Linked DNA regions of Homo sapiens: region 1 is linked to region 2. Evidence: fine-mapped expression QTL. Tissue or cell type: testis. Region 2 holds a variant in brackets; the other region holds the start of a gene. All regions are shown on one strand. Distances are from middle to middle.

Region 1 (5,111 bases), 170 kb after region 2:
AAAACTTCTATACTTGGGTCTCAAGATCATATCACAAAAGAGTGAAATGAATTAGACACTGTAAGAAATTGACCATTCAAAAACAGGAATGTTATTGCCTACCAACTCAATATAAGTGACTAGAATAATGTTATTCAGTCTAGGAATCTATTAATAGAAGAATAGTGCTAGGACAAAGGAGGTAATGGGCTTCCTCTAGCTTGTACTGGCAAAGCCATAATTGAGGTAATACAATGTTCAGATGTATGCATTTAAGTGTATGCGTGTCTGTGGCTGTGAGTCAGAGAGTGTGATGGAGAGGCAAAAGGGAAGGTAGTTATAATTTATGAGGAACAATGGAAAAGATCAACAGGTTTCAAAAAGGTAAACCAAGATGGTGAGAGAGTTTCAAACTGTTATCAATTCAAAGAAATAGGAGTATTTACTTTTGAAGTGGGTTTTGGAGTGGAAGTTAGTAAGATCTTTTATGGATGGATGGACAGATGGATGGATGGGGGTGGTGGATGGATTGAAGAGTTAAATCCCTAAACACCTCACTTTGAGAAATGTAGAAGCAATGGAGCAGTTTTTTCCCAAACAGATTAGATAGTCAGACAGACAGGCAGGCTATTTATTGAATACATTCTACATGCCAGTATTTGGCCGAACCCTCTACATATACCAGGTGCTTTCTTCTCCAAACAACCCTTTGGAATTCCTATTATCCTCATGTGGAAAGTGGTAAATATGAGGCATAGAGAAATTAAGTGACCTGTCCAAAGTCATTGCCAGGCTGAGCTCAGACTTTGTGCTGTTAACCTCTAGTTTATAACCCTGAGTGACACTCAAAGGTGGCCTACTCAACTCTCTCTTAAAGAAATAACTTGCTGGCCAGCGGCAAGGAGTGCAGTTAGCTGACAGCCTCTACTGATAACCTCCTCGGGCTCTGCTTCAGCTTTCAACCAGAGACCATGTTGTTTCTGAGGAGGCCCAGCTAAGGACCGAGCACGGTTGGGGTAGAAGAGTCTGAACATTTCTGCCCACCATGGGCCCCTCTAATAAACAGTCTTTCCTCTGGAGCTCCCCACTGAGCTGTTGTAGACTTCACCAGATCAGCATTGCAATCTGAGGCTCCCCCTGCCCAATTCAGCCTCCTTCCTCCTTCTGTCTATCGCAGGAGTTGTTCTGAATAACCTTCTTTTACTCCAATGTCCATCTCAGCATCTGCTTTGCAGAGGACACAACTGGCACACCCTGCCTTCATATATTTGGATTGCCATCATATAGAAGACTGTTTAGAATTGTTTTGTGTTGTGATAAGGGGTTGAATTAGGACAAAATTCAACCCCTTATCACAACACAAGCATAAACAAACTGCTAGGGAAGCAGCTTTCACATATACATAAGGAAGAACATCGTAACAACTAGAAGTGCCAAACAATAGAATAACCTGCCTCAAGATCAATGAGTGCCCTGTCACTGCGTTCAGGCTGACTGGAGAACTGCTTTTGTGTGAAGGTTGTGTGGCATTACCACTCCTCCACTTCTACCCCCATGAATACTGAGGCACCTGGGATGCTAAACATCCACAATGCTAATTGATTAGCAAAAACCAAATTGTTTAGGAAATCGCGCCAGGAAGCCCAAACCTCTGATTTCTTAGCAGATCAGTGGGTCTGGTTTGATACATCATCCTTGTCCACTTCCAGGGCAGTTTAGTGGTACTCTAGGCCAGACTAGCCAGTCTACATACTTTTTTTTTAATCAAAGAGCTTCTAGAAAATGGGATAAGCTGTGGGCTGATTGTCCCCATGGACTAGTTGGTGGGATCAAAACCTAACTTCACATATGTTTATGTCAGACTGTAATATGGGGTTCACCCTCTAATGCAGTTCTAATGACTCCCTCCCCTGCCACATGGTTCTCAAGCTCATGGACTTGCACACGACAGCCAGAGAGATTCTCTTCCTCAAGGCTGTTGTCTCCCTCCCTTCATGCAGACACAGGCACACAAAGCAGGGGACTCCTACTGCCCCCTTCTAAGAATTCCATGATGGTCAGATTATATAAGTAATCATATATTTCAGATAGCAAAATAAGAGATGGAAAAGACTGGTAGGAAAATCAATAGCATAATCAGCGTTAGGATCTGTATATAAAGAGACATTCATTTGCTGTGCAAATATTTACTGAGCACCTACCAAAGGCCGGAATCCCTTCCACATGCTAGGGACGTGATGCGCTCGACGGAGTCCCCAATGTCATGGAGTATATATCTAATGCCACTGAGAAACCTGGCTCACCCTGCACTGAGAGAAGCACTCAAAACCACCATCACCAATAGCGCTACTAAAGACAGTGCTTTGGAGCTTCCAAGCTGATAGATTATCCTTTCTCCCCACCCTCAGATTTCTCCAGTGTCTCTGGCACTTATAGTCCATGTTTGCAAGAAATATTTTATTATAGTGCTCTGAAACAAATTTATAAAGTTTGCAAGAGAAGTTTTAAAAAAGCAAGCTCAGCAATATTTGGGGGCTTTTAAAGCTGATGATGCAGCTGACCTACTGGAGACAAAGGCAGTGGGAGGGCCCTTACTGGTATAAATAAATAGGAGTCTCTGGTACTGCAAACCCACAGCCTGGACTCAGAGCTCAAGTCTGAACTCTACCTCCAGACAGAATGAAGTTCATCTCGACATCTCTGCTTCTCATGCTGCTGGTCAGCAGCCTCTCTCCAGTCCAAGGTGAGAAATTTCATTTACATTTCACTGTTTGTTGAACAGAAATAGTCTTTAACCACTTCAATTTTCTTTCGATTAAAAACCGCAGGGAAGTCTGACTAAAGGGGGAAAAAACTGCTCTGTTCCTTCTAGATTTCTCAAAGTAAGGTGTTTAGGAATTTAACTCTTCAAAACTGGAAGTATTTATATTGTTAAGATTTTTATTTATAGCAAAAAGAGATACCACAAGTCCAATATTCATGTGAATTATATATTCCCAGCCTTTTTCTGATTCAGCTCCTGCTATATATAATTCTTTACATGTAGCTCTTCTTTGTTCTGCCTCTCAATGTTACCCACTCTGACCAAACCCTATACAGGGTTTAAAGATTATTGAACTCTACTGGTCTCTTGCAGTGAACATGCTTCATGTAACTCCAAATGGTTAGATCTGACATCAAGTACACCACTGTCAGTACACCAGGGGTATTTACACACATTCTGCAAAGAAGCAGACTTCCATGTCTAAGTGGGGCAGCTATCTTTGTGTCAATAGATAAATATCCAGTTGAAGTAGTAAGTTTTTATGTGGCCGAAGAAATGGATATGTGCAGAAAGAAGCCTTCTGCTCAGATTTAGAAGGCCAAATTTTTGTTCTTAAAACACAGAGGAGCTTTGTCCCCCAGTTTTAATTTTGCTTCACATGTTATTTTCACTCTTCAAAACCCTAATTTCTTGCATTCTCCACGGGGCTTTCCCATGGCTCCCGGCAGAGGTAGCTCTTAGTACATCTTCTGTTCTCAGCATGCATGTTAGATTTTGAGCGTAATACAACCTTCTGTGGTATTTTAGTTTTTGTTTGCTTGTTTCCCCTACTAACTTGTACACACCTTGAGAGGTGAGCCTTTTTATTTATAAATGTATGTCAAGCACAGTAGTAGGCTGGATAGAAAAGATCTGATAAATGTCTTTGGCTTAGATTTCATTAGATCCCATTAAAATTCATGAGATGGATACTAATGGTACCCATCCAGTATTAATTGCTTTTGTTAAATAAAAAGACTTTTGAATTTTTATGATTGCCTTTTGTTCTGTAATGATTTGCAACCCAGACAGAGGACCAACATATCAAACAAAAACGTCTGTGACATTTTCTGAGAGGAAAGGGGAGGATGGCAGAGAGTCTGATAGAGAAAACTCTGTTCCAGCATGTTATTGCTCCCAGGACTCTTGAGCCAGGTCATGTCCTCGGTTTTTATGTGTTGGGAGTGAAGATAATCCACTGGTTTTATATTGCATTAATTATAACTGAGTTGTAAGTCCCTACAGAGGCTGTTCTCAAATTTTATTATGTGGACTATCACCTGAGTACAAATATAACACTATCACAAATTTCAAAATTGCTGTGTTTTTTTGAAAGCTAATTTTTGTTTTGTTTTCTTTTTGCTTTGTTTGTTTGCTTTCTGAGATGGGGTCTCCGTTTGTTGCCCAGGCTGGTCTCAAACTCCTGGGTTCAACCAATCCTCCCACCTTGGCCTTCCAAAGTGCTGGGATTACAGGTGTAAGCCACTGTGCCTGGCCTAAAAGCTAACTTTATTTTTAAAGTTTTGGTAGAAAACATTTGAAAATACTCAAGCCAAGACAAGCAGAAATATACAAACTAAAGACATATGGGTGGAAGCACTGACTTGAAACTTTTAAGTCTTCAAATGCACGTTATGAAAGATTAGTAATTAAATTCTAGTTATGAATTACATGCCAATGGATTAAAATAACTGATTCTGTGTTTACTTACAGGTGTTCTGGAGGTCTATTACACAAGCTTGAGGTGTAGATGTGTCCAAGAGAGCTCAGTCTTTATCCCTAGACGCTTCATTGATCGAATTCAAATCTTGCCCCGTGGGAATGGTTGTCCAAGAAAAGAAATCATGTAAGTTTCAAGAGAAAAATAAATAAGATTTCCTTCTCCCAATGAAATCAGATCAAATGTTACCATACAGTAGTCTTACTCAAGAATGTCGAAGAGATTTACTTGAGTGTTGCTAAAAATTCTCAAACTAATAATGAAAATTGTTAATAATTAAGAGCTTAGTTTGCAGCAGCCCTGAGCTAAGTGCTTTACATGCACATACTCATTTTCTTTATTCAACCACTTTATTAAGGTAAGTCTATTGTTCCTTACAGTCTGAGGCTTAGGAAGGTTAACTAACTGCCTGAGACACACCATCAGAAAGGATTAGAAAGTGCATTAGTGGCCAGGCGTGGTGGCTCACGCCTGTAATCCCAGCACTTTAGGAGGCCGAGGAGGGCGGATCACCTGAGGTCAGGAGTTCGAGACCAGCCTGACCAACATGGAGAAACCCCGTCTCTACTAAAAATACAAAATTAGCCGGGTGTGGTGGTTCATGCCTAT
Region 2 (5,211 bases):
GAATGCTGATGAAGGAAAATCCTTTCTGCAGCCAGAACTTTGAACAGTAAACCTGATTGTTCATTTTGCCTGGAAGGGGAAAGGGCCTGAGGTAAGAATCTGTAATAGTTCCTAAGCTGTGGCCAATGTTTTGGCTGAATGGTCAGGGGTGTAGAAGGAATACAAGTGTAGAAGGAATAAAATTAGAAAACTGGATACAATAAGGTATCAGGGAGAGGTATGTGGACTGGCCTGAAAGGTGGAAATGGCCTTTTGAAAACTAAATTACGGCGTCAGCTATTGGCAATACCTTGCAGGGCTCAAGCTAAGGCTTCTAGGATTCTATGTAGTCTTTAAATCACTGTCCAATATAACTGTTTCTCCCATAACCAGGTTTCAAGGGTGTAAGAATTAAGGGGTGAAAATACAAATAACTTTACTATTATCCCCTAGTGATCTACTAAATTGTTTTATTCCCAAGGAGTTTGGAACTAAGACCCCTAGACAGCAGAGCCTAAGGGAGGAATGACTCTACCAGGAGACAAAATAATGACTCTGTTAAAGTTGAGATGGCCGGCTGCCTCATACCTCTGATTCAAAAGTAAAGGAGTTGCTGTACTGGTTAGGGCGATTGTTCCTGACAACCAAGGGGAAACTGGACTGCTACACAAGGAGGTAAGGTCTAATATGCCTGGAATACCCAAGATCCCTTAGGGTGTCTCTTGGCACCACCATGTCTTGTGATCAGTCAAGTGAATACCATACCCACTCCATTCAGAAGGGATTGCTAATGGTCCACACCTTTCAGGAATGAAAGGTTGGGTTACCCAATACGGCAAAGAACCACAGCCTGCTGAAGTACTTACTGGAGGTAAAGGAAATATGGAAGGGGGGGTTGGCAGAAGGTGGTTATAAATACTAGCTCTGACCATCTGACTAGTTGTAGAAACAAAGACACTGACAGTTACAAATATTTGTTAGGAATGTTTGCATATAGAGTAACTATTTGTGTCTCATCTTCTTACAGTCTAATATAAATGTTAATACTAGTTGACCTAGTATTTGTTATGGTAGTATTCAAGCTATCACATATTAAAGAAGAGTAAACTGTACCCAAGTAAACTTGCGCCCTCTTTTGGGGAAAGGGTTACTGTGTTTTCAGTTGTACACGGGACAGCTGTATTATATTAGGCAGAATTGACTATCTATTTGGAGATTAACTGTGTCTTAATGTGAGGCCTAAGGGTGCCAAGTTGATAAGGGTAGACTGTAATGATTTTTTGATATGCCTACGTTGCCAGACCACTGTCCCCAGTTCTAAAAACACTAATGTAGGTGTTGCTTTAGAAGTGTCATGTAGGTATGATTAAACTTCACAATTAGTTGACTTGAAGTGTAAGGGATATTCTCCCAGAAAAGTTTATGGGCCTAATCCAATCATTTGAAAGGACTGAACAGAGCTGAGGCTTCCCTAATGAAGACATTCTGCTGTGGTCAGAAGTTTCAGCAGCCCCTGAGTTCCTGCCTGTTCCTCCTGAAAGCCTTCCCTATCTGTGGATAATGGGCTTGCCTTGCCAACTTCCACAATTGCATAAAACAAGTCCTTGCAATGAATCTCAACATGTATTAATATGTATCTCCTGGTTCTGTTTCTCTGGTTAAACCTTGCATGATACACCCTCTTAATATCTGATACCACTTCTAAGGTTCAAGAATGCCAAGAGCAGCAGTTCCAGCCTTGCAGAGGAAAATGAAAGTGACTTCTGTAAGTCTGAGCCTTTAGTGTCAGCTGTCCCATAATTTATCCACCTTTGCCCTCTTCTGGTGATACAAGGAAATTCACAGTGATGTCGGCTAAAGAAACGCCCCTCATGATTCTCAGGCAATTCTGCTGAGGTCTCATGGAAAAATAGGCATTATGCCAAGGGTACAACCAGATAAATCATAGTTTTCTATTTTTCCATTATTTGGAGTTGACTTCCTAGCTGAAAATAACTTTAGAATGTGAACATTCATGGCAGCCATCAGAATGTTTGTTGCTTTTTAAAAGTTTAGAAATAGAAAAGCAGTTTTTTGGTAGAAAGTCTTACATATTCCTCTTGAGATTCAAAGTCCTTTTCTCACTACCCACCTCTCCATCCCACTTGCTTGTTAAAAGATTACTTAAAAATACTTTAAGTAGAAGAACAAGCTTTCACAAAAGTGCTGATAACTTATGTTTTTATGCAATTTCCTATCTATACTTGATGTAT[C/A]TTGGCAATTTATCAATAAAGATCCACTCATTCCTAATATGTGCACAGTATTCTATAGTATGAATGAACTGGAACTTAGTGTTTGCCTTACGGACAGACATTTAGGTTGTCCATCTCCTTGGCAATTAAAAATGATGCAGTGAAGAAACATAACATACCCTTGCTTCTCTGTGCTCCTATTTCTGTAGGGTAGATTCTTAGGCAAAACCCCTTTGATACTCATGCTGGGTAACACATCCAAGAACAGAGGTAACAAATCTAGCATAGGATTGTCCTTCCATATTGTTTGTTATTATCCCTATGTACCTTTCAATTCGTGCAGTCACTAAAGATGTGGCCATAGAAAATGCTACATGGATCTCCCTTCATAGAAAAACTTCTTATTCAGCTATTATGAGCGCAGATGGTGGAAAGCCTCCAGCTGTCCTTCCGGATCCACTTGGGCTTTCAAGCCAAGGTCATGGTCTTCGTGGGCAGCTTCCAGCCAACGACTGAGTCTGGTAGTTATAATTAGAGACTATTTCTGCCAAAATACATGACTCTGCTGATTTTTAACTGGTGGAGACTTTGTCAGATCGGCCTCAGAACTGAAGTCTCTATGCCTAGTCCTCCTCCCCACTTTAGATCTGCACAGCCACCTGAAGGCTTTCCTCACTATGATGGGTGGAATAATGCCCCCAAAATGTTCATTCCAATCCCATGAACTTGCGAGTATTCTATACATGGTAAAAGGAACTGTCATCTGTGATTAAGTTGAAGACTTTCAGATGAGATTATTCTGGATTATCTGGGTGGGTCTAATGGCATCACAGGGGTACTTGAAAAGGAGAGGAGATAGGATAATCAGTCAGAATGAGAGGAAGCAGAGGTTAGAATGATTCAAGGTCACAAACCAAGGGGTACAGGCAGCCCCTAGAAGCTGGAAAGTGAGTAGGTGGATTTTCCCCTAGAACTTTCAGGAGGAACGCAGGCTGCCGCCAAGACCTTGACTTTTTAAGCTCAGAGAAACCTGTTTATTTCGGACATCCAGAACCATAAGATGATAAACTAGTGTCTTAAGCCAGTAAGTGTGGTAACTTGCTATGGCAGCAAGAGGAAACTAATGCACTGGCTTGACCTTGTGTTCACCCTTCACTGTTCACAGGCAGTACCCCCAGGAAACCTCTCACTCCAAAACCTTTCTCCCAGCCTCTGCTTTTCAGAGAACCTGACAAATTGGAAAGGATTGAATGTTACCAACTTCTGACCAACACCTTGCTGCAGCAAAATTCATGAGAGCCTGCTGATCATTGTCATGACTCAAGTTTAAGAGCTGCATTAAAATGATGAAAGGAAAATCTTGGGAGAAGGATGTAGAACAATCACAAATGACAACCAGCTTCTCAGAAACATCTTGGTTCTCAGAATCAACTTATCTAGCGGCTTCTAAAGCAGGGAATTGAACCAGGATGACAGGATTCACTTGTCAGCAGCCTCTGTGGCTGGTGTTCAGAACCATGTGACCCCTCTATCATTGCTCACGATTGCAGTACCTTCATTTTGGGGTACTATTTCACTAAATTAGGAGGCACAGCTTGGGAATTCCATGTAACAGGAGACATAGATGACAAAACATTCTATAAAGAGGCCAAACATATGTATACTATGTACCATGTATATAAGCTCATTTACTCTTCACGAAAATCCAATGAAGTAGACGTCATCTCACCATATAGAAACAGGCTACCATCTCAATGCCATCACAGGTTGGAATAAACTGAGACTCAGATGGATGTCAAGTGCATGTAGGGGAGAGCAGTTAGTAGGATTAGCTCTACCTCTTACTGCTGCACTTGGTCCTGAGGCCATACATGGCTTTCTTCTTTCTCTACTGCCTACTCAGGATTATCCTCACCCTTGCCTTAGTACTTCTCCTGGGCTAGAGAGCTTGCCTGGTGTCCCAGACCTTTATCTATGGGAAGTCTGAGTCCTTGACTCCTAGGGAAGGCCATAGCCCATGTGGATATACATGAGCCTAGCCCTGGTCTGCAGAGGAGAGCCAACGCTGGCCCTGAAACAAGATCATATTGCAACAGATAGAACTTCTGAGTGGTACTGGTGCCCCATGCTCAGTGCATTCCTGCAGGCCTTGGTGACATAGGCCTTTACTGGGAAGTGCTAGCACTTACTAGGGAAGAGTAAGCCGCCTCTGTAAACTGAGGGTTCAGGGGGTCTGTAGAGCCAAGACTCTCAGGCATCCATCCAGATGTCCCCATCCCCCAGTTTTCCCCATCAAGGTCCTGACCTGAACATAACAGACACGAGCTGGCTGGGCACATTCATTTCCCACCGAAGCTCTGTTTTTCTCACTTCTTTGTTGAGCTGTGTTTACTCTTTTATTGTAGGAGATGAGGGCCTCTTGATAAGCTGCCAAAGAGGCCCTCTGGTTCTTACACTTAAGGATTTTTAATTTTTGCTTTACAAGTTTTTAGATTTATTTTTAATCGAAAATATGTTTATGGGTTGCAATGTGATGTTTTATACCTGTATACTTTGTACAATGGCTAAATCAATCTAAAATATCTATTATCTCTCTTTTTTGTGGTAAGGATATTTAAAATTAGCAATTTTGAAATATACAATATATTAACTATAGTTGCCATGCTATGCAATAGATCTCTTGAACTTACCCTTCCTGTCTAGCTGAAACTTCTTACCTTTGACTAGCATATATTTGGTAATCCCCACCTCAGCCCCTAGTAACCACTATTCTACTCTCTGCTTCTGAGTTCAACTCTTTAAGTTTCCACATATGAGATCACATGGTATTTATCTTTCTGTGTCTGGCTTATTTCACTTAGTGTTTTCCAGGTTCATCCACATTGTTGTATATAATACAATTTCCTTCTTTTTGTAAGGCTGAATAATATTGCATTGTGTATACTTACTACATTTTCTTTATTCATTCATTAATGGACACTTAGGTTGATTCCATATCTTA

Alleles and levels. Positions count from the first base shown, and alleles are read on the strand shown. Sizes are in standard deviations (SD) of each study's normalised expression.
With allele C in place of A in region 2, the expression in testis of the gene that starts at base 2,613 in region 1 is lower (moderate effect, 0.58 SD a copy in GTEx).

What was found. PIP is the estimated chance that this variant, and not a neighbour inherited with it, causes the effect.
Region 1: it holds the start of CXCL13, and the variant in region 2 is fine-mapped to the expression of CXCL13 in testis (GTEx, PIP above 0.99).

Annotation. Positions count from the first base shown.
Region 1 is chr4:77,603,208-77,608,318 of GRCh38, forward strand. It overlaps CXCL13 (C-X-C motif chemokine ligand 13), which reads left to right and starts at 2,613. Exons shown (of 4, transcript NM_001371558.1): 1 at 2,613-2,722; 2 at 4,496-4,628. The coding sequence starts at 2,659.
Region 2 is chr4:77,431,780-77,436,990 of GRCh38, forward strand. No RefSeq gene overlaps it. Among named protein-coding and RNA genes, the nearest start is that of CXCL13, 170 kb to the right of the region's middle. The variant C/A (reference allele first, on the strand shown) is at 2,232.